4 linked regions of the Homo sapiens genome follow. The protein of the gene in region 3 interacts with the protein of the main gene of each other region in a pairwise test. Each region holds a gene or a part of one and is shown on either strand. Other genes may lie near its edges. The genes, in order: EYA3, ZNF232, ELAVL4 and NETO2.

Region 1 (7,619 bases), about 22 Mb from region 3:
AACCAAAATAAGAAAACTTGGTAAGCCTAAAACTAATATGCAGAAACATATTTTAAATTGAGCCCTTAGGGCTACCAACTAAAGTAGAAATTTTTGTAGAAAATCAACGGTAATTTTTTTTCCTGAGCTTTAAAAACAAACACACATTAAGCTGTCTCTGGGTTTGTTTGTTTGTTTGTTTGTTTGTTTTGGTTTGGCAGCTAGGTGGAGGGTCAGGCTTGAAGATCAGCAGCATGGAACACAACTGCTCCAATGACTACACAGGATGCTCATTTCATTTAATGGCTTCAATGCAGAATATACAGGCCAAAGTCATTTTAGAAGAACAAAAGACTCCTAAAACTTTTCAACTTCTACTTCTGCACAAAACAGTTTCTTTCTCTAGTCACTCTTTGAAGGCAAAATGACTTCGGCTTTGGATTTTAAAATCCATGTCACAGATTTCTTATCCTAATAGTCTCATTCATATATGACATATACTGAAATGACCCACTAAATACTATATTGTGCTTTCCAGCCTACAGCTTTAATGGAATTAACACTCGCTACTCTTGAGAGCATGTATAGGACTTCTTGACTTAAAAAAAAATGACCTTGGAAATTAACTGTTTAAGTTGTAATTTCTTTTTTTTTTTTAAGAGAGTCTCACTCTGTTGCCTTGTGGAGCGCAGTGATGTGATCACAGCTCACTGTAACCTCAAAATCTTGGGCTCAAGCAATCCTCCAACCTCAACCTCCTGAGTAGTTGGGACTACAGGCGCACACCACTACACCAAGCTAATTTTGTCTATGTTGCCCAGGTTGGTCTCGAACTCCTGGCCAATCCTCTGGCCTTGGCCTTCCAAAGTGCTGGGGATTATAGGTGTGAACCACCATGCCAGACCTAAACCCTAATTTCTTTATGTTTTGTAAATAAGAGTGCCACTTCTTACTAGTGACAATGGTATATAATCTTTATAACTAGATTTTATTATTTTCTATTGTTTTGAAGACAGAGTGATTTCCCATCATTTTTGGGGTTTAATGTTCTTATCTTAATCTGCATTAATTAAGCTGGCATTCCCATGGCTTAAATGAAGCCCACAAACCTGAAGGTAAGGAAGCAGCTGGAGTAAGCCATACACATTGGGGTTTGTTTTGAAGGATGGAAAATAGGCCAGGTTGGACAGAAGCTAGAGCTAGGTAGTGGGGAGGAGGTACACATAAGAAACTTTCAAAGAGGCTTCACTTAGCAGTTAGATAAGTCCTGAAAGCCAATCAGAAGGGTCCTTCTCCGTGGCTTCTAGGACTAACATGGCCAAGCTCCAAAGTCCTTTGCTAAAAACAGCTGAAGAGAGCCCAATTTTGGAATAAGCCAAGGACTATACACTCTTATATGTATATGTATCATATAATGAAGATTTTTCTATAGCTAATTAGCCAAAAGATAAGCAGGTGCTCAAAGCTGTATTTAAGTTCATACTGAAGTACTACATTTTAAAGCACAATTTATAGATTACAGAAACTGATGACACAAAAACCGCTGCAATCAAGTGCTAGATATACACTATAAACATCGGGAAAAAATAAAGATTACCCAAGCCTATACTCTAGATCACAAAATTTGGGAAAGGGAGCACTAACCATTATTAAATGCAATTCCTTCATGTTATAAATGACTTTAAACCTCTAGGGAAATTTAAGAAAGGTGCCCTAAATCTCAAAATGAGAAAATGATAGTTTTACTACAAAGGTGGAAATGGTAAGGAAAAAAAAATACAAAAGTTAGAAGAATATTCTAAGTAATGTACTTCTAAGTAATGTAATTCTAAGTAAAGTCTGGCTAATGAAGGAAGAGGAAGACAAATAGAAAACTTAATACAGTAAAAATGAAAAAATGCATATGTGCATACTAAGTTTAAAGATTACTTTGAAATTACTATAGTGAACTCTTCAGCAGACCACTTTTCGGAAACAACACAATAAATTCATAAATCTGGGGCTAATGATCTCTCCACAAATTCTGTCCTCTATCATCACAAGTGTCCTGTAAGAAGCGTCCATGCCGAAAACAGAGCTGAACGTCCCAAAATATTGGCGTTTTTGCCTCAGCTGTGCACATCCATTCTCATGGGAACACAAAACTGACAGAACTTCTTCATGACTTGTCAATTAACAAGATCGCGCCAGCCCAACTGCTAGCAGTACCGTGTGCCTGCCACCTGTTAGCTGCTCTTGAGAGAGCCCCAAAACTGAGGTAAAGCGAAGAACTAGGAACGCCTTTGTTGTACCCTAACTATGGAAGCTACCAGAGTTCAGTCTAACCCGGCGCCTTAAGGCAAAACTTCCCCCAGGCTGGGGAAGTCTTCCCATTTCGGGGCTTTGGCAAAGCTCTCCTCTAGCTAAGGACAGGCAGAAGAACCCCAGGAGAAGCACTGTCACCTACTGGTCCCAGGAGGAAGGATCAAAGCTGAAGAAAGTTGGGGGACAAGGAACTAGGACCCTAGGGAGAGGCTCAGTTTCTCGTGGTGAAGAGTGAGCACAATGAGAAGCTGGGCCGTCTCGCTAGGTGAAAGAACGCTGAGATCCCAGATCAGGGGTAGGGGAAAAGAGGTTCTAAAAGAAGGGAGGAGGAGAAAAAAGGAGAGGCAGTGGCTGAGAGAAGCGCTGAGGCGTAAGGCAAGAAACCGAGGTTGGAAAAGGACTGATGAGGCTGAGGAAAAACAGCGAGGCGACAGAGGCACGGAAGCGCGAGAAGGCTAAGCTGAGGTGAATAAGGCGAGGCCAGCGTGAAGGAAAGGGCTGAGGTGAGTGAAGCACTGCAGTGACAAGGGACAGGCGAAGAGACTCCCACCCACAAGGACCGAGGCAGAACTCTAGACCCATCCCCCTTCACGCTGTGCTCGCCCGGCTGCGCTCAGACCCTGTTGGCAGCTGAGACTCACCCAAAGGCTGTAAAAGCCCCACAACAGGACATGGAGATCAGTCCAGACCCACAGTAGAACCAATCGAGCGGAGGAAACCGCGGCGTTAGCGTGACCCGGATGCGCATCGCTAGGAACCGGAAGTAAGCGGCCAGAGTCACCTCACAATCCACACCTCGTTCCACTAGAAACCTCTGGGCGCATGTGTTGAGTCTGACCGGGCGGGGAAGCTTTTAGGCTCCGCCCACTCCGCCGGCCCGGCGAGCCACGCCCATGGCCACGCCCCTCTTAGTGCCTCGGAGACAAGCAGCTTCTGGGTGAGCGCTAGGCAGTCCTGACGGTACTACAGCCTTCACTTTTAAGGAGGTCTTTAAAAATGCGCGTAATCCCTACCTGGCTAAAAGGAACGTAAGAAGTGTTGGGTGCATTTGGTAGATTTAGAAAAACTGGGAAGGAGAATGAGTGGGAAGTTTTGGAAGACATTTGGGAGGCTAGCCCAAGGTGATCTTTTTTTTTTTTTTTTTTTGAGACGGAGTTTCGCTCTTGTTGCCCAGGCTGGAGTGCAATGGCGCGATCTCGGCTCACTGCAACCTCCGCCTCCCGGGTTCAAGCGATCCTCCTGCCTCAGCCTTTCGAGTAGCTGGGATTACAGGCATGTGCCACCACGCCCGGCTAATTTTGTAGTTTTAGTAGAGACGGGGTTTCTCCATGTTGGTCAGGCTGGTCTTGAACTCCCGACCTCAGGTGATCCGCCCGCCTGGGCCTCCCAAAGTGCTGAGATTACAGGCGTGAGCCACCGCGCCCATCCCTTTTTTTTTTTCTTTTTTTGAGACAGAGTCTTGCTCTGTCGCCCAGGCTGGAGTGCAGTGGCGCGATCTCGGCTCACTGCAACCCCCGCCTCCTGGGTTCAAGTGATCCTCCCACCTCAGCCTCCCGAGTAGCTAAGACTACCGGCGCGCACCACCACGCCCGGCTAATTTTTGTATTTTTCGGTAGAGACGGGGTTTCGCCATGTTGCCCAGGCTGGTCTCCAACTCTGGAGCTCGGTTGATCCCTTGGCCTCCCAAAGTGCTGGGATTACAGGCGTGAGCCCCAAGGTGATCTTTTTATCCCCAAATTTAGTTTATTCTTAATATTATATTAGGCTTACAATTCACTTCGTGCACACTGTTTTCGGAAGCAAAATTCTTAAATGTTTCGTTAATTTTAAATTACAACCCAAGTATGGGCTAGAAGCAAGGTTGAATTCAGGCTTTGTGGAGACTTGACGTTTATTCAATTTGGGGGCCCTCTTTAAAATAATCAAGGCCAGGCACAGTGGCTCATGCCTGAAATCCTAGCACTTTGGGACGCCGAGGTCGACCGGTTGCTTGAGCCCCGGAGTTGGAGATCACCTGGGCAACAAAATTAGACCCTGTCTCTACAAAACAAACAAAGCAAAACAACAACAAAAAAAACCCAGAAAAATTAGCCAGGTGTGGTGGCACGCACCTAACTGAGCCCAGGAGGTAGAGGCTGCGGTGAGTTATGATTATGCCACTGCACTCCAGCCTGGGCAACAGAGCGAGACTGTCTAAAAAAAAAAAAAATCCAAAATTACAAATACAATATTAGATATAAAAGTGAACCTTTTATAATGAGAAAAATTACAAACATTTTTATTAGCTCACAAATACCACGAATAACAAAATCCAGAAAAAAAACTATTTTTTCTACATTTTTTGACTGTATATTTGATCACCTCTTCCGATGACAACAATGTACTAAGCAACATCATTTACTAAGATCCTTAACTCCTCTCTCATATCCCACATGTACTCCATCAGCAAGTTCTGCAAGATTTGCCTTCAAAATCTGTCCAGAACCTGACCATTTACTGCCTCCGTTGGTATAAACCAGTCAGTCAGTGACTGTGAGTGCCCTATTTATACTCTTGCCTTCCCACAATCTTTTTTTTTTTTTTTTTTTCAGACAGAGCCTCCCTCTGTCACCCAGGCTGGAGTGTACTGGCCTGATCTTGGCTCAGTGCAACCTCTGCCTCCTGGGTTCTCCTGCCTCAGCCTCCTGAATAGCTGGGATTACAGGGGCCCGCCAGCACGCGCGGCTAATTGTTATATTTTTAGTAGAGACGGGGTTTTGCCATGTTGGCCAGACTGGTCTTGAACTCCTGGCCTCAAGTGATCCACCCGCCTCAGCCTCCCAAAGTGCTGGGATTACAGGTGTGAGCCTCCACGCCCGGCCCCCACAATCTATTAATATAGTAGCAATGGGCTCCTGTTAAAACCCTAATTAGATCATATCCTTCCTCCAATGCATTCCTATTTCAGAGTAAAAACCAAAATCCTTACATTGGTCTACAGGACCCTCAAGATTTGACACCTCCAGTACAGCTCTGCTCTAACCTCAACTCCTACTCCTTCTGTCATCCTTCCCCTTAAAGCACATTGGCCTCTGCCATTCCTCAAAACTACAGGTAGGCCCAGGGCCTTTGTGCTTTTTAATCCATCTGCCTGGAGTGCTCTTCCCCCAGATACCTGCATCATTCATCCGCTCACCTCATTTACATCTTTATTCACATGTCACTTTCTCAATGAGATCTTCCCTGACACTACATTAAAAATTGGAACACTACCATCCTCTTTGTACTTTCCCATCCAACAAGTTGCTTGTAAATTTGGCTTAGTGTCTCTCTCCCCCTGCCAGAATGTAAGTTCCATGAGTCCATGGATGTTTGTCCGATTTGTTCACGGATGTTTTTTCAGCACCAGAATGGAGCCTGGCACACTGTAGGCACTCAGTAAATGTTTGTTGAATGAAGGGCTAAATTGCTCATTTACTTTGGTTTTCCTGATCTGAAACCCTGCAAACTGAGCCACCACCTCCACCAGAGGGAGCCCATGAGTAATCAATGCAATAGCTCCAGAAAAGTTATGCCTAAAGCATTTACATACATATACACTCTGTTTAAGGACAGGAATATGTTCTGAGAAATCCCTCGTTAGGTAGTTTCATCATTGTGCGAACATCGTAAAATGGACTTATACACACCTAAGCTATATGGTATAACCTATTGCTCCTAGGCTATAAATCTGTATAGCATATGACTGTACTGAATACTGTAGGCAATTGTAACACAATGGCAAGTATTTGTGTATTTAAACATATAAAAACATAGAAAAGGTACAGTAAAAATATTAAATAATCTTATGGGACCACCATCATATATGCATTCTATCATTTACCAAAATATCATTATGTGACAGCTATGATTCTAAAACAGAGCTACAAGAAAGCATGCAAATTCCTCCCCAGAGCAGAAGCTGTACCTTGCTGGTGCTCTAGTGTCTTTACAGTCATTTAAGAATAAAATCCAGGCTGGGCGTGGTGGCTCACGCCTATAATCCCAGCACTTTGGGAGGCCGAGGCAGGTGGATCATGATGTCAAGAGATCGAGACCATCCTGGCCAACATGGTGAAACCCCGTCTCTACTAAAAATACAAAAATTAGCTGGGCATGGTGGCATGTGCCTGTAATCCCAGCTTCTCGAGAGGCTGAGGCAAGAGAATTGCTTGAACCAGGACCTGGGAGACGGAGGTTGCAGTGAGCTGAGATCGTGCCACTGCACTCCAGCCTGAGCTACAGAGTGAGACTCTGTCTCAAAAATAATAATAATAATAATAATAATAATAATAATAAAATCCAAAGGCCGGGCACGGTGGCTCCCATCTGTAATCCTAGCACTTTGGGAGGCCGAGGCAGGCAGATCACCTGAGGTCAGGAGTTCAAGATCAGCCTGGCCAATATGGTGAAACCTCATCTCTACAAAACATACAAAAATTAGCCAGGTGTGGTGGCAGGCACCTGTAGTCCCAGCTACTTAGCAGGCTGAGGCATGAGAATCACAGGAGGCAGAGCGTGCAGTAAGCCGAGATGGCACCACTGCACTCCAGCCTGGGTGACAGAGTGAGAGACTCCATCTCGAAAAATAAACAAATATATAAAATAAAATAAAATAATAAAAATAAGACCTCTAATTTATATATTTCCATTTTGAAAAGACATGATGAATGTATGATCAGTGTTTTATAATAGCTATTAATTTAAACCCTCCTGATTGACATATATGAAGTACAATGGTCTGGATTTTATTTCTGTTGATGTTCTATATTGTACTTGAGGCAATTTCTTATGATATACATGATCGTTGACCTTCTAAAAGCAATCAGTAGTTGGTAGGATTGTAAAATGGTGCAACCTTATGGAAAGCCATATGGTGGTTCCTGAAAAAAATTGAAAATAGAACTAACGTATGATCCAGGAATCCCCTTCTGGGTATATATCCCTAAGAATTGAAAGCAGGATCTCCAAGAGATATTTGCACACCCATGTTCATGACAGCACTATTCACAATAGCTAAGAGATGGAAGCAACCCAAATGTTCATTGATGGATGAATGTATAAACAAATTTGGTATACATACAATGGAATACTATGCAACCTTAAAAAGGCAGGAAATTCTGTCTGGGTGCAGTGGCTCATGCCTGTAATCCCAGCACTTTGGGATGCTGAGGCGGGTGGATCACGAGGTCAAGAGATCGAGACCATCCTGGCCAACATGGTGAAACCTTGTTTCTATTAAAAATACAAAAATTAGCTGGGCATGGTGGTGTGCGCCTGTAGTCCCAGCTACTCAGGAGGCTGAGGTAGGAGAATCG
Region 2 (7,593 bases), on a different chromosome or scaffold from region 3:
TAGACGCCCCTCAGACACCACACGAGACGGCGGCTCACATGGGCCAGAAGTGTTTCCCCTCTCCCCCAGCGGCTTGTCTAGGAAAACATGAGGACTCGGTTCGACTCGATGGTGCGGGCCTAAGCCCCGGGAAGCCGGGAGTGGTGAGGCGGGCCGCCGGGAGCGGGGCCGGGAGTGGTGAGGGGGGCCGCCCGGAGCGGGGCCGGGAGTGGCGTCGAGCAGAGAGCCCGCAGGCGGGAAGTCCTCTCAATGAGCGTCTCGAGCGCTGCCCGCGGCCCCTCCTGACTGCTAGTTGGAGCGGGGACAGCATGGGCGCGGCCGCCAAGGTAGCGTCGAGTGAGGGGAAGACTGATGGGCGCCTGGAGACGAGCTCCCACAGCGGCCACGCATTTGGAGCTGGGCGTCGGGGCCCGCCCGTCCCGCCGCGCCGCTAGCTGTCCCCTCTGCCTGGCCTCCGTGCCTTGCGCCCCTTTGTGCCGTCCAGCCCTACAGCTTTGAGGCCCTTTCGGCGCACGCACCCCGCCCCGATCCCCCGGCGCTATCCCAGCCTTGACGGCCGGGGAGGCTTTCCCTAGCCCGGCGCCTCGAGGACCGCCTCAGTGGCCAAAGGCGGCGCGGGGTGCGCCCGGGCTGTGTCCCCGGGAGGCTGGACCGCCAGTCCGCGCATGAGGCCATCTGTGAGGCACGAGTGCAGGAGAGTGAAGGAGACCGGGGCGTGCTGAGTAGGGACCTCCCTCAGTGACTGGAAGGTTATTCATGGGGCCTTCTGACACTCTAAAAACGAAATTTCTCCGGGGTTTGATGAGTATCAGGGTGGTGGCTTCTTGAGTTTTGAGCAGGCATCACAAATCAATCCCTCTGGAATACAGAACTGCCTCTGTTCCGTTTTGGGTTTTGTGTGTGTGTGTGTGTGTGTTTTTGGAGACGGAGTCTTGCTCTGTTGCCCAAGCCGGAGTGCAGTGGCGCCATCTCGGCTCACTGTAACCTCCGCCTCCCGGGTTAAAGCTGTTGTCCCGCCTCAGCCTCCCGAGTAGCTGGGATTACAGGCGCCCCCCACCACGCCAGGCTAATTTTGTATTTTTAGTAGAGAGAGGGTTTCACCATGTTGGCCAGGCTGGTCTTGAACTCCTGACCTCAGGTGATCCACTGGCCTCGGCCTCGCAAAGTGCTGGAATTACAGGCACGACCCACCACATCCGGCCCTCTGTTCCTTGTTTCGAAATAACTCAATTAAAAGTCAGAGGCTCACTGGCCACATCTCCTTCCACCCACCCACCGCCCCACCCCCCAAAAGATGCCTCTAGCAAATAAAATGAGACGTCCTGATGCCTTCCTGGCTCGTTCCAGAATTTTTAGCTTTGACTTTTGACGTGGGGTCCTTCTACCTAAAGTCCCCGCCGTCACATCAGCCCCCAGTTTTCCTCTGTCTTAGCTCGGGCTGCCGTAACAAAATACCATAGACTGGATGCCAGACAACAGAAATTTATTTTCTCAGTTTTGGAGGCTGCAAGGCTGTGACCAGGGCCCAACATGGTCAGGTTCTGGTGAGAGCTCCCTGGCTGCCTTCTCACAGGGTCCTCACATGGCAGAGAGAGAGGGACCCAAAGCCCTCTGGTGTCTTTTTTGTTTGTTTGTTATTTTTTGGGACGGAGTCTCACACTGCTGCCAGGCTGGAGTGCAGTGGCCCGATCTCGGCTCACTGCAACCTCCACCTCCCAGGTTCAAGTAATTCTCCAGCCCCAGCCTCCCAATTAGCTGGGATTACAGGCACCCACCACCACACCCGGCTAATTTTTGTATTTTTAGTAGAGAGGGGCTTTCACCATGCTGGCCAGGCTGGTCTCGAACTCCTGAGCCCAGCTGATCCACCCGCCTCGGTTTCCCAAAGTGCTGGGATTACAGGCGTGAGCCACTGCGCCTGGCCAGAACTCAGTCCTTACAGAACATCAGAGAATCCATACAAGGTGAGAGAGAGGCCTTATAAATGCATTGGGTGTGGGAAAGATTTGAAGGGGAGCTCACAACTTATTCAGCATCAAAGAATTCACAGTGGAAAGAAACTTTGTGAATGCAATGAATGTTCAAAGACTTGTAATCAGAGCTCACACTTTATTCGACATCATAGAATTCATAGTGGAGAAAAGCCCTATGAATGTGACAAGCATGGGAAAGCCTTCAGATGGAGCTCAGACCTTGTGAGGCATCTGGAAATTCATATTGGAGATAAAGTTTTGGAATGTAGCGAGCGTGGAAGAATTTTCAATCAGAGCTCAGGTCTAATGCAGCACCAAAGAAACCATACAGAATCATAACCCTAGGAAGACAGTAATGATAAAGATGTCAGTATGTACATATAGGAAGAGAGAAGGAGAGTTTGTTTTTGTCCTAACTATTTGGAAAATTGTAAGCTTCCTAAGAGCAATTTTCATCTGATTCAGTGTATAGTACTTAGTCTCAGGTCATGTGCAGATATGTCCTTCCCAAATGCTTACCACAAGATAAATCAGAAATCTTGACTGGAATAAGCTTCTAGTTCCTTTGCTTTATCATGAGAGGTTCCACACCACAGGAAAATCTTGTAAATGGTGGAAGCTGCATAAAGCACCATCATCATCACAAAATGGTGTCCTTGTGTGTCCTGTTTAGCAGCACCGAGAATCTAATAGCTTTCCCCTTGTCTGTTTTTCCTTACTATGAATTGTGCCAGGGGAACAGTAAAATGGGTATGATATCCTGAACTCTAGGGTGGATGTCTTTCTGGGACAGAATCTAATCCAAAAGTCTGCAAATGGACTTGAGGTTTTCACATTAGTATAAATGTCAATATGTAGTTTAGGGAATTTGCCTTATTCCTCCATTCCTAGCAAAATTAGATACAGAAGCAGCTAATTAAATCAGGAAAAGGAAACTGACAGTAAGTCATAGGACCCATTGTCTTCTCTCATGTAAAAGTAGAAGTTGTGATTCAATCTGTTCTGTAGGATTTAAAAGTATAATGGCACATTGAAGTTTGACATACTGAAATTCAGGCTCTGTCAATTTCATCTCTGTAACCTTTATTGTTTCTGAGTCTTGAGTTTTCTCATCTGTAAAATCAAGATAATGACATTAATACAATCCCTTGTGGAGCAACTGTGAAGACTAAATAAGACAATTTCATTAAGTTCCTGGCATAGTTCTAGACACGTAGTAGACATTCAACAAATGATAACTATTTTTATCCATAGCTCCTACGTGCAGTAATTATCAATGGCACTTTGAAGGAAAAAAGATAATATATCCCCCAGCCATGGGGGTGTCAATGCGCATTTTCAAGGATACTATATCTTGGAGAAACAAATTTAATAATCTGAGAATCTGAGAACTGTTACTATGGTACTACACAGTTGAACAACAATTTTTCTTGGAGAGACTAGGATTAAGCTATTTTATAAAAGTATTGAGAGACTGGATCAATCAATATCCTGCAAAATTGATAGTGAGATAAATTTATTTTTAATTAATTTTTTTTTTGAGACGGAGTCTCACTCTGTCGCCCAGGCTAGAGTGCAGTGGCACAATCTCAGCTTATTGCAACCTCTGCCTCCCGGGTTCAAACGATTCTCCTGCCTCCTGAGTAGTGGGGACTACAGGCGCCCGCCACCACGCCCAGCTAACCTTTTTGTATTTTTAATAGAGACAGGGTTTCACCATGTTGGCCACCATGTCTCAAAAAAAAAATAAAAAATAATCGGCCGGGCGCCTGTAAACCCAGCACTTTGGGAGGCCGAGACGGGCGGATCACGAGGTCAGGAGATCGAGACCATCCTGGCTAATATGGTGAAACGCCGTGTCTCCTACCAAAAAAAAAAAATTAGCCGGGCGTGGTGGCGGGCGCCTCTAGTCCCAGCTACTCAGGAGGCTGAGGCAGGAGAATGGCGTGAACCCGGGAGGCGGAGCTTGCAGTGAGCCAAGATCGCGCCACTGCACTCCAGCCTGGGCGACAGAGCAAGACTCCGTCTCAAATAAATAAATAAAATAAAAAATAACAACAACAAAAAAACACCAACCCCTATTTCCCCCATCGCAATAAAATTAACCTTAGAATTCTTTTTTCTCCTCCCCTCCCCCTACGCCCCAGGAATTGTACAGGCTAGTGGTTGGGGAATATTTTTTCGTGGAAGGGACCGTCTTCCTTAGCTGTGGCCCTCTCATCAGGTCTGGGAAGAGGTAATTGGAAAATAGAACTCATGGAGAAGTGTTACCACAGGCCATGGACAAGGCCAGAATTTCCCTGACATCTGTCCGCCAGCACCGCCCTTCAGGTACAATTCCACAAGAGACCCCCCAAACTTGATGAAGTCACCCGCTTACAAGGGCTCACTCTCCACCTGCGCAAGGACTGCAATTCCCAGGGGCCTCCAGGGCACCCGGCCGCTCCAGTCCAGTCGTGCAGGCGGCGCGCTCTTTCTCGCTCCGCTCAAGTCCAGGAACCGGTTCCCGGGCTCCCAGCCTCTCGGCAGCGCCCACGCGCCTGGGCCAAAGTCCGCGAACGGAAGCCGGCGGCGAGGAGGATTCTGGGAGTTGGAGGCCGAGGCTGCGACCTGCGCAGGCGCAAACCTGCCCCTGGGGTGAGGGCTGTAAGTGGCGCGATTCGCGGCAGCGCCCCGATGGAACCTCCTGGTCCTGTGAGGTGAGTGTTGGCGGCGGCTTCCCCGAGGTCCACCTGGCGGCTTGGCTTTTGCCCGTCCCGCAGGCAGCGGCGGCTCTGCAGTGAGCAGGCCTGGCAGGCAGCTCCGCGGTTGTGTGTGGAGAGGGGTTTGGGTTGCCCGTGGTGCCCGCGCTGCGCTACCTGCGTTGCGTCGCGTCACGTGCCGTGGAGGGGGGTCTTGATGTTCCTCTTCTCTTTTCTCGAGACCCTTGGGTAGGGAGTGAAGGGTGGGAAGGGGAGTTGTACCTGGCCTGGACGACAGCCCCCTCCCCGGGCGGGCACCTGCCCGAGGCCGGGGTAGAGAAGTTTTGCTGGGGCCAGCGGCGCCGGGCATCACCCTGGGAGACGCGAGCTCCGCGTTTTTCCTCGCGCCTCCTTTGTCTTAGGCCAGCGGTCCCCCTTTGTGCTCCTTTCGTGGCCTCTGATGCGTTCCACCTCCTTCCCTGTGTGAAAGGAAAATAAAATCTCAGGACCCCAAACTTACTATGACAAAGGGAAAAGTTAAGCTTGGAAACTGAGTCACGGAAAAAAACTGCTTTTCCTTTTGTTCCTAAACCGATAGCTGCAAGATAGAAAGCAACATATGCCCCCAGGTGGCCTCCCTCACCCTGGCAATGGAAACGAACAGCCGAGCTTCACCGGACAAGACTAGAAATCGTTCCTCCACCCACCCAGAGACAAAGCATATTTGACTTCTTCCTCTACTGTATGTCTACCTTATCTTGTGTAAAATGCAGATTTACTGAGCACGAGACAAATTCATAATTGACTTCCTCTTTTCACGTGCAACATGTGGATTCAGTGAGCTCTAATCAAATCCTCACAAGAATGTGGCCACTTACCTCACCACATACCCTCCCTCTTCTCTCCTCCTTCCCCTCCTGCCAGCTTTCTCCCCATTAAATTGAAGCCCTCAAAACCCTCTTTGGTAAAAGTGCGAGCCACGGATCCTACTGTGGCTTGTGTGTCTTTTTCCTGGGTGCATCCTCAACCTTAGCAAAATAACCCCTAAATTGGTTGAGACCTATCTCAGATGCTTTTTTGGTTTACACCTGTTAGATTTCCTTGACGCAGGCCACTGTACCCGAGACTTGTTCATAGCTGCCCCTTAATAGGGCTTTGGCATTTGAATGAGATCCAGCTCCTTAAAGGGGACTTATATTTTTCTTTTGCTGTAGCTACTACTTCAGAAATTTTTGAAAGCAGGGAGGAGCCATCTCAGAGGAGGCTGCCTCCCCAACACATTCCACCTTGCACTGAAAGCTGCTCGGCTCTGGGCTCTGCATCTGGAAACTTGGGTTTTGCTTCAAACTTATTTCTTCCAATAGTCATTTCTTCCCATAGGCCCCCAGAACTTTTTTTTTCTTGATACATTTTTCCTGTCAATGGCATTTAATTAGTTGTATTATAGAAAACCACTTTACATCCCCGTTTCTACCACGGTGCAAGTTTCTCAAAAACATTGACTTAGTGCAGCAGAATTCTGGGGAGGGGTGGAAGAAAAAGCGGGACTACAGGGCATAGGACAGGGTTTGGCTCTTTGGAGTGTTGAGTATATGTATATGTTTAATGAATGAAAAAAGAAGAGGAGGACGGGCGCGGTGGCTCATGCCTGTAATCCTACCACTTTGGGAGGCCGAGGTGGGTGGGTCACCTGAGGTCAGGAGTTCAAGACCAGCCTGGCCAATATGGCAAAACCCCGTCCCTACTAAAAATACAAAAAAATTAGCTGGATGTGGTGGCAGGCGCCTGTAATCCCAGCTACTTGGGAGGCTGAGGTAGGAGAATCGCTAGAACCCCGGGGGTGGAGGTTGCAGTGAGCTGAGATCATGTCACTGCACTCCAGCCTGGGTAACAGAGAAAGACTCTGTCTTAAAAAAAAAAAAGAGGAATGATTTCTTCTTATGTTACAGGGGGCCCTTGCAAGATTCCAGCTGGTATGAGCCTTCTGCAGAGCTAGTGCAGACTAGGATGGCTGTATCACTAACAGCAGCTGAAACTCTGGCCCTTCAGGGTACACAGGGACAAGAGAAGATGATGATGATGGGACCAAAGGAAGAGGAACAGTCTTGTGAGTATGAGACCAGGCTACCTGGGAACCACTCTACCAGTCAAGAGATCTTCCGCCAACGCTTCAGGCATCTCCGCTACCAGGAGACTCCTGGTCCCCGGGAGGCCTTGAGCCAACTACGAGTACTCTGCTGTGAGTGGCTGAGGCCAGAGAAACACACGAAGGAGCAGATCCTGGAGTTCCTGGTGCTGGAACAATTCTTGACCATCCTGCCTGAGGAGCTCCAATCCTGGGTGCGGGGACATCACCCTAAGAGTGGAGAGGAGGCTGTGACTGTGCTGGAGGATTTAGAGAAAGGACTTGAACCAGAGCCGCAGGTGGGAAGGGGGATTTGGTCTGTTATGGGAGCCAGATTGATGACCTTCAGGCTGGACCGAGGGGCAGCTGTAGGGGGAGGTGCCAAGTTCAAACCTCTCTTGGGCCAGGTAGAGCAGTTAGTATGTGTTTCTGTGTCTGTCTTTTCTGCCCTCGAGCCCTGAATGAGAAAGAGACTCTAGCTCCTCTTCTTCCCTTGTGCTGACTCTGAGGAGGCTCTCTAAAGTCTCCTTGGAAGCTTTGGTCCAAGGAGGGTCACATCTGCAAGTGTCCAGGCAGGGGACAGAAACCACACTAGTAATTTGAAGAAAATTTAAACTGAGTGGTGCCTGATCACCTCCAGGTCCCAGGCCCTGCACATGGACCTGCACAGGAAGAGCCATGGGAGAAGAAGGAATCTCTGGGAGCAGCCCAGGAAGCACTGAGCATCCAGCTCCAGCCTAAGGAGACCCAGCCTTTCCCAAAGAGTGGTGAGGAGCAGGATTCTGTGGGGAGGGAGAGGAGAAAGAGGGACTAT
Region 3 (7,024 bases):
AACCATCGACATTTACGATGACAGGATTTGAGTGCCTACGTTATTGTGCACCGCTCTAATAGTTTATCCCTGAAATTTTCTGCCTGTATAATGTTTCTTAAAATATATCACAGAAACATAAAAGATTTAATGTAGTGCTTTGTACATCCATTAGAGTTCGAAGTCAACTGAACCTCCTCAATGATCTATCCTGGATGCTGACTGTAATTCTGTTCTTAATTGCTATTCAAATGAGGAAAGGAGGGCAAGTCAGGGGCTTGGAACCTGGTCAGCTGCAAAGTTGGCTGTGAGACCCACACAGAATGTTTCATTAAAGTACATATGCACACTTGAGTAACTGATATATTTATTTGCAATGAAAATTGTGCTGTTAGAATATCAAAGGCGTTAGCCTGAGGAAGCAAGTGTTCTGATTTTGCCCAGCCAGCCTCTGTACTTACTGGAGGATGTGCTTTCTACCAACACACATCTTTTCTACTCCTGTTCTGTCCCTCTGTTTCCCAAGCAGAGAGAACAGGTGTCCTGTCTTTGAGGTCTATCATGTAACCTTAAAATGCTGTAGTTTCATATTCGTGCATTTAATATCTTTACATCTTGGCAACTTCTCTTATTTTCCAGGTAATGTTTTAAAATCCTCTTGTTTCATTCACATGTCAGATTTGATTCTGATGTTTTACATTTCTGATTTTTTTTTTCAGCCTGTGTTGCATCCTAAGATGCATCATTAAGACCTGTGAGGGGTCTTATTATAGGATGTATATTAACACATTTGCAAATGTTTCTCAGCTTTCAGACAGCACACTTTTATTGAGAAAACTCTCTTTGTATGTGTCCATTTGTGTGTTTTCATCAGTTCCTTCTGGATACACAAAAGAATAACTGTGTAGTGTAGATGCAGAGCAAAGAGAGCTCCATCTACATTGGATGAGAATGACTTGACCTAATTTATAGATGTGGTCAGCTAAAGTAGCTCAGTAGTGAGCATTGTATCTCATGGCTCCTTTTAGAAGCTAGTTGGGACCAGTTGGGCTGTCTAATCTACAGACAGGACTCACCTCCTGGAGTCAACATAGATTAGGAAATCCACATAGAATGCAAGGAAGGCCACAAAGCTGATGCGGGGACTGAAATTACTTTGCTGCAGCCTTGTTACTTCACAGGCCTTCCTGGAGGAGGTGGACCTGTGAGATGTTCACATGGACAAGTGCTGGCTTTCACCACGTGTCTGAAAACGAAAGATGAACCTGACTATCAGGTGACCTTTATGAGTTTTGGTCCCACAGAATCTCAACATGAAATTCTTCCACATACTCCATCACTAGCACCAAATAAGCTGCCTTGGTGTGGGATATTTTCTAGGTGTTTGTTGGGGAGCTGAAAGAAGGGTAACCTGAAAAAGGTAGAAAACAGAGAAGAGTTTCTAAAGATTGTGGGCCTGGGGGGTTTTTGCCATTAAATCGAATGTAGTAGTCCGGCCTCCTGAATGGATAAATTCTGATTTTCATGTTCATTATCGAGTTGGCAGTGCTTCTTATGTTTGTTGCCTGGACACCTGACTCAGTGAAGCAGTGAGACAACACAGCAAATGGAGGCACTGCAAAGACCCAGAAGGCCCCACAGCTTGGCAGAGCTGAAACCTGCCTCCTAGCCAGGAGTTGTGCTGATGCTCTGTAATGCCATCCCTTTAGCATGCCTCCTTCCCTGGGGACCATCTCCCTGATTCTTTTCCTGGACCCTTGCCTCGAAGGCAAAGTGGCTGAATAGGCTTTGCTGGGTACAACTTCTATCAGTCCTGAGGGGAGCTTGATTTAAGATTCTTCTCAGAAGCTTTTTGCTTTCTCCTTGCTGTCTGGACCAGCCTTCTAGAATCCTAAAGTTGACCTGAAGCCAAGAAGAAAATTCTGGTGATGGGAGAAGTGGAGCCACTTAAATTACTTACATGATGGTAAAGAATCTTAGATGCTCCCCATCTTTCTTAGTCTGCTTTATTTCCTTGGCTCCTCTTGAGCCATGTTTTCCTTTTTGTTTCATTTATCATTTGTGACCATCAGAAGATGAAAGAATTAGAATAACACTCACCTACGTGGGGCATGATGAGGAATAATAGTTATGATGCCTCTGGGCCCTTTGTATTTTAGACATTTAATGTACATTATCTCTCATCCTGAAGATAACCCTGCGTGGCAAGCTTTTTATTCCAGTTTTGCTGAAGAGGAAGCTGAGGCTCAGAGTATTGAAGTAACCTGCCTCAGATCACACAGCTAATAAGTGGTAAAACTAAGTTTTTTGTTTTTTTGTTTTTTGAGACGGAGTTTCACTCCTGTTGCCCAGGCTAGAGTGCAGTGGTGCAATCTTGGCTCACTGTACCCTCTACCTCCCAGGTTCAAGTGATTCTCCTGCCTCAGCCTCCCGAGTAGCTGGGATTACAGGTGTGCACCACCACACACACACAGCTAATTTTGTATTTTCAATAGAGACTGGGTTTCTCCATGTTGGTCAGGCTGGTCTTGAACTCCTGACCTCAGGTGATCTGCCCACCTCGGCCTCCCAAAGTGTTGGGATTACAGGTGTGAGCCACCGCACCTGGCCTAGAACTCAGATTTTAAATCACCTGTTGTCTTGACTCAAACACTCATTCCATTTTTACTATACCACTCTGCTTCAGATGAGAAAATAAACAAAAACAAAAACAAAAAATAGTCTCTGAACATTGATGAGGATGTGGAGCAACTGGAACTTTCATACTCTGCTGGTGGGAATATAAATGGATACAGCCACTTTGAAATACTGTTGGCAGTATCTACTGAAGCTAAATATACATACACCCTATGATCCCAAAAACAGAATCCTAGGACTATCCCCAATAGAAATATGTACATTTTTGTACCAAAATGTTGTACATAACGCTCATAGCAGCATTATCTATAGTAGTTCAAAATTAGAAACAATCCAAATGTTCATCAACAGATAAATAAAATGTAATATTTCCACACAATGGAAATTGCTATAGCAGTGGGAAGAACAATGCATTGTTACATGTAACAGAGCAGATGACACTCCATACATGTGTGAAAAGGCACAAAAGAGTATGTGTTGTATGAGTCCATGTATATAAAGGTAAAAAAATAGGTAAAACAAATCTGTGGACTAGAATTCAGAATAGTGGTTACCTTTGAGGGGTGAGGTAAATGACAGGGATGGAGAACCTGAGAAAGGCATTTGGGGTGCCAGTCATGTTCTGTATTGTGATCTGAAAGGTAATTACCCAGTTGTGAATTGTGTTCACTTTGTAAACATTCTTTGTGTTGTACCCTTAAGATTTATACACTTTATTACATGTATGTTATAGTAAATGAAAATGCTTCCCCCCTAAATCCTCTGAGCAGGCAAATGGTAATAATAATGGAAGCTACTAGTTATCAGATGTCTGCTATGCCTTGGTTTCCTCATCTATAAGACATAGAGAATATTAGAATATGCTTCATTGCCTTCTTGTGAGGAGACAGTGAGAGAAGTCACATTGGATGATTGGCAGAGTAACTAATAAACATCAGTGATTGTGGTTATGTGCCCACCACTGTTCTGGTGCTTTACATAAGTCATATCACTGGATCGGTTCTTACCGCTTTGCCATACGGTGGCATTGTTCCCATTTTTCAAATGAGGAAAATGAAGACTCTTAGGATTTAAGTCCCTTGCCAAGGTCACACAGCTAGTAAGTGGCAGAGTATGATTTCATTTCCAAGGAGTTGATGATCAGTTTCTGAGGAGATGGAAGCCATTTTATGATGGACAAATAGAGGACGGTGTAAGACAAAATGGAAAGTTGCGAATTATGGGCTGCGTTTGGGGCCAGGAAATCCGGGTGCAGGCCTGGACTTTGCCCCCATTTTTCTATGATAACAGAGAAGTAACTGGACATCTCTGGGCTTCATCTCGAATGTGAGTGTTGAGCTAGATTTTGTTCCCTTATGTGCCTTCTGGCTCTGCAATTTTGCAATTCTCCATGTTTGTCATTCCATACAGGGCATCTTCATGACCTGACTTCATGAGCTTAAACTCATTTTTCATATAAAACCCTATTCCAGCATTTTCTCAGAACTGTCCCTAAATCTCCCTATCCTATAAGCAGAAGTAATTGCTTCTGTATTGCATGATCACTGCCCTATACCAGCTGTTTACCTGTCTGTGTCCTCTATAGACTATAAGCTCCCTGAGGATAGGGATTCATTCATTTCTTTATTCTCATACGTGCTACCTGGAACATTCACACCAGCCAGAAATCTTTGTTTAATTAAATATTTTAATCAAGAGAAAGTCCTTTTTGAGTAATATGTGAGTGGACAGCCTCAGGCGGTGCTGGACCTAACGTGGAGACCTAGAGAAAAGTTTGCCTCCATGTTTTTTGTTTTATTAGAGGTCTGGGAGAAACAATAACAGAATGGCTAGATTAAAAAAAAAAAGACATTAGATGACTTTGCAGCTCCCTAGAATGTACCTGTAAAATCTAAAATTTGATCAGTGATTAAGCATCAGTGAAAATTTAAACCCTTCCCATATTGAACAACCCCACTTAATTTAATGTCATTTTATTTTATGAGATAGTTAATAAACAGGTACTGTATTTGATCTTGTGAGTGTAGTCCTCTATATTTAGCTTTTTCAGCTTTAATGGAACTATAATTTTAATCATGATTATTACTTTACATTTTAATTATAATTTGGTGTGGCTTAAGTATACATTTCTGAGAGTGATTGTGTAATGAAAACAGGAATTAGCTTTTCATTAACAAAATAATGGGAGAGTTCCTACTGCATTCTAGTCTGTGTTCAAAATCTATGGGCTGGCCTAAAAATAGAAAGAGGAGTTTAACATTTTGGTTAAAAACATGCTTCTAAATTGGCTGTGTTCACAACCCAGTCTCTTGCTCCATCTTGCTTTATCTTCTTCTCTTTCTTTTCAAAAAAATTAATAAACTTTTAAAAGAGACTTTGTGTCTGAGATTTCAAAAGGCTTTTTCAATTGTTTTTATTTTTATTTAGATAATTAGCACCATGGAGCCTCAGGTGTCAAATGGTCCGACATCCAATACAAGCAATGGACCCTCCAGCAACAACAGAAACTGTCCTTCTCCCATGCAAACAGGGGCAACCACAGATGACAGCAAAACCAACCTCATCGTCAACTATTTACCCCAGAATATGACCCAAGAAGAATTCAGGAGTCTCTTCGGGAGCATTGGTGAAATAGAATCCTGCAAACTTGTGAGAGACAAAATTACAGGTATGCACAGGATTTGAAGCTATGTTGTTCCATTAGATGTGCAGATCTTAGCAGAAATGCACATGTGTGATGGTGCACCTGAATGTCTATATCATGTACCCTGCATGCAAGATGGCATGGATACACAGTCATAAACTCACACTACATACACCACATAAGACCTTATTGTAGATTGGTACTGCTGGGGAGCAGATGAAGATTTTGGTACATCTTCATCTTCATGTAAAATGATCCTTTGATTTTGTCTCCTTTTATTCTTAATCAGCCATTCCTTCCCTTTGTTCTATAGTTTCCAGTCCCACAACTCTGCCCTCCCTATACTATACACTAGTTTTTGCTCATGTATTCTCCTCCTCTCAATATTTGCTTCATGTGTGCCCAGTGTTCTTCCATGTGCCTGAAACAAGTGTTTTAAAGGGGGCCACTGTGGATGTGTGGACAGTTGACACAACTGCCCTTGTCCCTGGGGAGAAACAGGCCCTAAGGATAGCAGATTATTCTGGAATACAACTACTCTGCAGTAGGAGGGAAATGCTTAATGAAGATCTGCATTTGAGGTATTTTGTTTTATTTTATCTGTCTGTTCGTTTTGAAGATACTCTTTGAGATGTGAGGGCATTTTTACTTGAAAGTGAATCAACACCCTATACAACTTCAATACATGAGATTTTTAGGTTCTGATTTTCTCCTAATTGACAACTGTTCATTGAGAACCAAATGTTTGCCAGACACTGACACTATAATTCTTTGGGGGAAAGTTTCCCTATAATCTTATTGGCAGTGAGAATATTTTCTTGGAATATATTAGGCTACATAATGATGGCAGTGAAGCTGCTACTCTCTGATACTCCACTCCTGAAATCATTCATATCCAACTTTGAATACTTGTCAGTTTTGAGTATTGACTTTTGTTTCCCTTTCCCTAGACAGTTTAATTAATCAGCAACTGTCCTAGAGTTTTTTTTTTTTTAAAAAGGAAGCTGCATCATTAAAATAGGGATATACATCATCTTTATTTTAAATCAGAGAATACATTCTATATGTGTGTGTGTAGATATATACATTCTTCTGTTCTCATAATTCACATGTAAATCTGTTCCCCTTATAAATTAAGTAGTTTGCAAAATCATAAAACTTAAATACCACTGCTACTTTCCAAAATACAAGTCACCTAACACTCCAGACATAATTTTCTTATTTGAAAAACTGGAAGATAATGCTTGTCTCAAAGGGCTTATTGTGAGGATTAAATGAGAGACTAGATATATTGCATCTAGCACAATGTCTACTGCACAGTGGTCCCTCAGTAAATAAATCTATTATTGTAAGTACAGCTAGTATGCTTCAAGGAAAGTGGCCAGAACAGAAAAAAAAGTATCTATCAAATTCTCCAAATAGGGCCAGGCTTTGATTATCTTGTACCAGAGCACTGGAACATCTATCCTTAAACAGAATTTCCCATACGTTCAGAAAGCCAATATTTAGATTCCTGAATAATCTTTATATAATAGGATGATAATTCAAACCAAATTAAAACCAGTTAACCATATGATTCTTCCTCCTACTCCTATATAGAAAATGTATTTTTAGTATAGCCTTACCTTCAAAATACAGACTCTGCCAGCTATATTAGTGAATATTATTAATCACCTTTTCAGAATTCCTTCAGAACTGTAGCGAGATTTTTGAGAAGTACTGATTCATGGTGTTGTTCCTTGTTTTCTAAAGACACATGTTTAA
Region 4 (7,024 bases), on a different chromosome or scaffold from region 3:
CTGTGTTATGGCTGGTGCACTGTGCACCCCGAAAGAACAGCTTGGCTCTCCAGCCCACTCTGTGACAGTCCTCACTGCCTCTTCAGTGACCGGATGCAGCAGACTGCAACCTGCAGGCAACCTGGGACAAAACGCATTTTTTTCTTTAGTTCATCTTCACTTGAAGATTAATGAATTTGAAAACATAAAATGGTTCTAAGTGTAATAAAATAAAGTTGCCCTTATCATAACTAGGATTATTGTATTTTGGAAGCTAGTGGATAGGAAATGCCAACTTTGCCCCGGAAGGAAATACAGATTCTGTTGGTATAAGTGATCTAAATTATTTGCCACTTCTAGACTTTAGAAATTGAGGCAAGCAAGGAAATCAGAACAAGTTTTTAATTCTAGTTCAAGAGTCAAAATTCTTTTCTATAAAATGCCAAATCTAGGATTAAGCATATTCTCATATGGCCTGGAAGTTCATCTCTAATAAAAATCTACTGCTTTTAAAAAGCTTACACTAGACAGTGCATACTAAACATGCACCCTAGTCATTAGCTTTTTAGGCTTTGGTAGTCATTAAACCAATTGCAAAAATACATTTTTAAAAAGTTAAAGTAAAGCAAATTCAGAGTTTTGAATTATTAGCAGAGGTATATAAAACATAAGTGATTTTGCAGAAAACTAAAATATCCAAGATAATCTTGTTATTTACAGTAACTCAAACTCCAATCATTCTCCAAAACTCAAGAGATATGGCACACAAATATTTAATTTCTAGAATACACGTCTCCTTTAGATTTAAAAAAGATCAAAAAAGCAAGAACACAGGAGCTCTTCCTGCCTAGTATCGAGCCTGTATACTGTTAACAAACATTGCTTAGTAAGAATTCACGGTGCCAAGGAATCATGGCAGCAAAACTGTAGAACACAATGTTACATACATTTAAAGAAAAGGGGAAATATAATGCATTGAAGAAATTACAGAATAAATTACATTTCAATTCAGAATGATTGACAAGCTTACATGGGCTGCTAAACAGAAGTGCTTGACTTTTAAAACGTACAGCTGGGCTGGGCGCCTTGGCTCACTCCTGTAATCCCAGCACTTTGGGAGGCCGAGGCGGGCGGATCACGAGGTCAGGAGATCGAGACCATCCTGGCTAACATGGTGAAACCCCGTCTCTACTAAAAATACAAAAAATTAGCCGGGCATGGTGGCGGGCGCCTGTAGTCCCAGCTACTCGAGAGGCTGAGACAGGAGAATGGCATGAACCCGGGAGGCGGAGCTTGCAGTGAGCCGAGATCACGCCACTGCACTCTAGCCTGGGTGACAGAGCGAGACTCTGTCTCAAAAAACAAAAAAACAGAAAAACAAAAACAGAAGGCCAGGCGCGGTGGCTCACGCCTGTAATCCCAGCACTTTGGGAGGCCGAGGCGGGTGGATCACGAGGTCAGGAGATTGAGACTATCCTGGCTAACACGGTGAAACCCCGTCTCTACTAAAAATACAAGAAATTAGCCGGGCATGGTGTCGGGCGCCTGTAGTCCCAGCTACTTGGGAGACTGAGGCAGGAGAATAGCGTGAACCCGGGAGGCGGAGCTTGCAGTGAGCCGAGATCGCGCCACTGCACTCCAGCCTGGGCGACAGAGCGAGACTCCGTCTCAAAAAAGAAAAAAACCAGAGTACTGGGGTTCTTGAGACACTGGTGCTGAGTTCACTTCTGTGGGCTTCAGTCTTCTCATTCATACACTTGGGCTAGATAGGTCTTTCTTGGATCTTTAAAACCACCAAAAACTCAATGATCCTTCTGGGTCTAATCAGTGTGATTCAAGGCATATTATTTTTAATGTCATATAATTCATGTCACTTGCAATAAAGTGACATGAACAATATATAGCAGACCCCATTTTGCAATAAGAGTATAATCTCCTTTGAGAATTATTCCTGAAATCACAACCAGGCTTCTCCCGTCCCCTCTCATCAGTGAACACACTCCTCAAACAGGGAAGCATTCTTCTCATCAGACATTGGCAGAACCATACAAATGTTCAGAGGCAGACTTTCAGGAGGTTCTTTTAAAGTCTAACAATTCTATGAAACATGACAAAGACACTGACATAAGCGCTGTCGGGTTAAAGGAGTCTTTGAAATCTCTTTTGTGATGTGAAATGTGAACATTCTTTGCCTTTTGTTAAACGTTTAGATTGACACTCTCCCCACACACAAAAGGAATATCACATCTTATTCCTACATGCTTTAGATGTTGGGATTAGTAGGTTTCCTGCAATAGATCTGTGGGCATTTGGGGGATGATGCGGTGAATTGCAGATGGAAGATAATGGTGACAGTATTATACAGGTATACTTAATGCTGTTTCTGAATTGAAGATATTTATCCCTTCCAGATTTGCATTTTGTGTTCAACACTGGGACACTGTGTGGGGTACCCTGCGTGACAGTTAATACTGTGTAATGAATTCCACAAGATTGCTAAATTTCATGTCTTCTGTTATTAAATTTTATGGCTTTCATTTTAGTAAGCAATTTATAAAGTTTTCTCACTGATCTCAAAGATTAAAGGCTGTATATACAGCAATTAGCATTATTCTGGCAATAATGCCTAAGATTTATTAGTTCCATTCTTACCTCTTCCAAAAGCATAGAGAAGTTTAATAAATAAATGAGATCTAATGCCCATCTATGATTCAATGAAGGTGTATAACATGTGACAGGCTAAGGCTGGCTTAGCTATTGATCATCTGGTTCTTTAGTTCTATCCCTGAAAATACAGACTGACCCTAAACCAATGTTCCTAGACGACATTAAGTTGTGCCTTCACTGGGTTAAGAAGCACCATTATAACCTCTGTCTCCATTTTGCATCTTTTTTACATTCTGAAGAAATGTTCCTATATACAGACCCTCATGCTGTAGTTCAAGAGGAAATTAGCCTCTGCACATAAGTTTTTTTACTGTGAAAAGCAAAAAGTGTTTTAGCAGCCAGAAAATTCAGAACCAAACTTACTGTCTAAATGTTACTTGCTACATTGACTCGTATAAAACTGTGTACTTCTATTTTACTGTTATGTCTTCTTTAAAGGCTCTGTATTTTGTAGGCCTCTTCAAGACCTTATAAATAGAAATCAAATTTCAAAAACAAAAATGTAGTTACAAGTGACTATAGTTTAGCATACTGTATTATTTGCTATTATAATCTAAAGATTAAATATAGGTTTAACAGCTATTTTAAAAAATGAATAATTTTACATAGAAAATATGCTAACTTCCCTTTTATCATCATAAGATCATAGTTGTTGTTATATTAAGTATTTATTATGCTGTTCAAATGTTAGCTGGTGTAAGTTACCTACTAAAATGCTTATTCAGCATAACTACTGAAAAAACTTAGCTGTCTCTGGTATTAGTTCATTGAATATTATATGCATCAAGTCTTTTCATGTTTCCACGTTATATTTTTAAAACAAGAAACTAGGCTGACTTAAAAAAATTTAAATCATGAATACATTATGTATAGGTTTTTCTGTCTCCTAAATATTATCTACTTTTTTAAAAAACAAAAATTTTGATACAAGAAAGCACTCTGAGGCAGTATATGTGTATTAAATTTAAGGTCACAATTTTCACTAATCTGAGAAAACACATATATGTAATATTTAAAAGTTAATGAAATCCAGTGAAACTTCAACTTATTTCATTGAGAATTTACTAACAAAATATAGAAAACAAGAATTTACCTCTTTTAAATGGCATGTCTGTATTACTTACAATTTGATAAATGAGTTCCTTTCCATACATACCTTAAGATCCACAACCTTGGTGGCATAAATAACATGATTAAAGGGTCAGGTACAATGTATATTTTAATATGGGATTTGTGTAGTGATTTAGAGCATAAATATCACACAGTGAAAAATTTATCACAAACTAAATACAGTAACAAAAGGAAAGAAAGAGCTTATGTCCACATTTCCAAGGTCTTTACAATAAGTTATAGCGTCCAGGTCCAACACAGCATATTTGCATACAAAGCCACTGATGTGAACACTGAAAGGAATCTGTCCTGTAGGTCTTTCATCTTGATTTAATAAAGTTTGTACAGTATCAAATAATATCAAAAGTCTAAAAAACACAATGAGCTTTTATGTTTATAAATTATTGTTTTTATACCATAAAAAAAGTCAAAAGTGCAGTTTAAAAAAAAGTGGAAGTTGTTATTCTTGATAAGAGCTAGAAAAATGTCATGTCCCAGTTAAGAAGCAATCTCAAGGCTCATCCAATTTCTAAGGAATTTTAACTGGCATCTAACCTTGGTTACCATATGCTGTAAGCAAAACCAACAGAATGGGAGCTATGTAACAATCTAGCGAAGAGAAACATTGCAAATAAATGTAATTATAGGCCTCTCCCAAAGTGAATGAAATGATTCTTTACTGGAATGAATGGGCTGTCACTGAATGTGACTATACTTGGTAAACTTCAAAGGCTTGCTAGAAATTTTTATCTTTTTCAAATTTTTAGTCATAGCTGACAATGGTACATATATCCCAGGATTATGAAATTTTCTAGTATAACTGAGAAAAATATAATTGAAAGGTAATAAATCATATCATCTATTATTTCTCACAGAAAATAAGGAATAAGGGCCCAGTAATTAAAAGGCAGAAGTACAGAGATTAGCCAAGAAGAAACAGATGGGTGAAATACAACTGGGTCTTAATTGGCACAGTAACTAGCTGTATTTTGACACACTCAAGAACAAATGCCTATACTGAAGTATGTGGTACATTAACCACTTGTACTTATGTAAGAAAATGAAATGGTAAAACGATAGGCTTATAAAACAAATTAAATTTAGAGAAAGGAAAAATAAAAGGAATGTAAAGAAAAATCAAGTTTATTGTGGCATCAAAATATTGACAGAGCTGTTATCAGTCAAGAGCAGTCTTCTTGTTGCTAAAACGAAGAGGCAGCCTGAGCCTGGCTCCATCCAACCACCTCTTCTAATGCTCTTTAACTGGCAGTGCTTCCTATAAATGACACCAAGCAATAGAGATGATTATTGTTTCCACTGAATAGAGTAAGTTCCTTGATTGGTTTAACATATATAGACTGCCTGAGAGAATAAAAACATCACCATACAATAGGTTAACGGTAAATCAAGGTCTTCGTAGTTGTGATGGGAGAAAAGGGTTGGCTGCTGGAAACAGTATGGTGCCCTGGAGGCTGCGTACGTACACACCCTAAGAATTCACATCACCATTAGCAGAAGATTAGAAGTCAATGGATATGGATGCTTGTGCAGAATCTTCTCGCCCCCTGACATAAATTTCACAGGGAATCTCCTCCATTACTCGGTCTTCCAGGGCCTGCTCAGGGCACTCATGTCCCTGTTTGAAAGTGTAACTACTTTTCTTGAAGGTGCTATTAAATGTTTTCATTGGCTGTGGTTGTGCAAAGTCATTTCGGAAAGGAAGTTCCATGGAACTGAGGTTGGTCCTGCTTTGTTTGACGCTGGAGGCCTGCGACCCACAGTGGTGGTCGTGGATGCAGCGGGAGGCGGTGGAGGAGCGCCGCATCTTCTGGTAGTTGTCCAATTCTTCCGACAAGTCTGCCAGGTCTGCAGAAATCTCTTTGTCCCTTAGTGAAAACAGTTCATAATGAGGAGGATCAAACACTTCTTGGAACCCGGTTTTATTAAAAGCGGTTTTGCAAGCCATGACCTTTTTTCGAGGCTGTTTCACTTGTACTAAAATAGAAATAATGAGAAGGACCAAGACAATCCCTGAAGTAATGCCAATAATTGTTCCATGAGTCTTAGTGATTTGTTCAAATACTCCTGCTTTTTTCTTTTCTGCAGAAAGAAAATGAGAAACGTTAAGTTTTCAAAATACATTAATATGAATCCTGGTACAAATTAGTAAGGTATTTTTAGGTAAAACAGAATACTTGGGCCAAATATACTACAGACAATGCAATTTACAATTAGGTTTTTAAACAAATAAAACAACCCTATTATAATTTCTGGTTAAAGTTACCAATCGCAGTACTGATAGATTACAGAAGATAAAGTTCTTGGTCCGTTTCTTCAGAAGACACATAAATGCATACATTCTGCAAATCAAATCAAATATACAAATATAGACTATGCCAAATAAATACTCTTGTTCTATCAAGTTTAGCTTTCTGCTTTATGGTAGGTTTGACCAACTGCTGTGTTCAGGTATACCCGCATCTACTGATGACCCCAGGGAGAGCAAACTAACATCATCAGACTAACCCATCCAGTATATTATCATGACCTACTGTTTTTGAATGATTAACTGAAAACACTTCATGTCGAGTATTTACGACAGCCATATCAGATTAGATCACCTTTCCACAGTAAGATATTTATTGAACTCTTACAGCAGGGGTCCTCAACCCCTGGGCCACAGACAGGAACTGGGTATCACTGCAGGAGGTGAGCTGCGAGTGAGCGAGTGAAGCTGCATCTGTATCTGCTGCTGCTCCCCATCACTCGCATTACCCGCAGCACTGCCTCCTGTCAGATCAGCAGTGGCATTAGATTCTCACAGCAGCAGGAGCCCTATTATGGATAACAATAATGGATTATTATTAGTGTGCTTACTTCTGTTAGGAAATAAACTCCTGGCTTGGAGGCAGAAGTCCAATAGAGTAGTATTAAGTATTTCAGTGTAAAGAAACAAACAAAACATATGAAAGTCAAGAAGTGAGGCAGCTTATTATTTTCCCATTCAGTATGACAGAAGCCCAAGTGCATGTGAGGGATATAGGCTGTGAGCTCCTTAGGAGAATCTAATGCCTGATGATCTGTCACTGTCTCTCATCACCCCCAGATGGGACTGTCTAGTTGAAGGAAAACAAGCTCAGGGCTCCCACTGATTCTGCATTATGGTGAGTTGTATGATTATTTTATTATATATTACAATGTAATAATAATAAAGTGCCCAATAAATGTAACGCGCTTAAATCATCCTGAAACCAACCCCCCTGCCCCA

What was found.
Region 1: the proteins of ELAVL4 (region 3) and EYA3 interact in binary tests that used the Homo sapiens proteins (3 or more experiments, as listed by UniProt).
Region 2: the proteins of ELAVL4 (region 3) and ZNF232 interact in binary tests that used the Homo sapiens proteins (3 or more experiments, as listed by UniProt).
Region 4: the proteins of ELAVL4 (region 3) and NETO2 interact in binary tests that used the Homo sapiens proteins (3 or more experiments, as listed by UniProt).

Annotation. Positions count from the first base shown.
Region 1 is NC_000001.11:28,085,600-28,093,218, forward strand, and holds the start of EYA3 (protein phosphatase EYA3), read right to left. Parts: upstream 3,012-7,619; 5' UTR 2,925-3,011; intron 1-2,924. UniProt on the Homo sapiens protein: Tyrosine phosphatase that specifically dephosphorylates 'Tyr-142' of histone H2AX (H2AXY142ph). 'Tyr-142' phosphorylation of histone H2AX plays a central role in DNA repair and acts as a mark that distinguishes between apoptotic and repair responses to genotoxic stress.
Region 2 is NC_000017.11:5,108,879-5,116,471, reverse strand, and holds the start of ZNF232 (zinc finger protein 232), read left to right. Parts: upstream 1-4,593; 5' UTR 4,594-4,649; coding exon 4,650-4,672; intron 4,673-5,252; exon of another isoform or gene 5,253-5,396; intron 5,397-6,603; coding exon 6,604-7,078; intron 7,079-7,419; coding exon 7,420-7,546; intron 7,547-7,593.
Region 3 is NC_000001.11:50,139,914-50,146,937, forward strand, and holds part of ELAVL4 (ELAV-like protein 4), read left to right. Parts: intron 1-1,858; exon of another isoform or gene 1,859-1,939; coding exon of another isoform or gene 1,940-1,945; intron 1,946-5,043; coding exon 5,044-5,284; intron 5,285-7,024. UniProt on the Homo sapiens protein: RNA-binding protein that is involved in the post-transcriptional regulation of mRNAs. Plays a role in the regulation of mRNA stability, alternative splicing and translation.
Region 4 is NC_000016.10:47,077,946-47,084,969, forward strand, and holds part of NETO2 (neuropilin and tolloid-like protein 2 isoform 1 precursor), read right to left. Parts: intron 5,857-7,024; coding exon 5,276-5,856; 3' UTR 1-5,275. UniProt on the Homo sapiens protein: Accessory subunit of neuronal kainate-sensitive glutamate receptors, GRIK2 and GRIK3.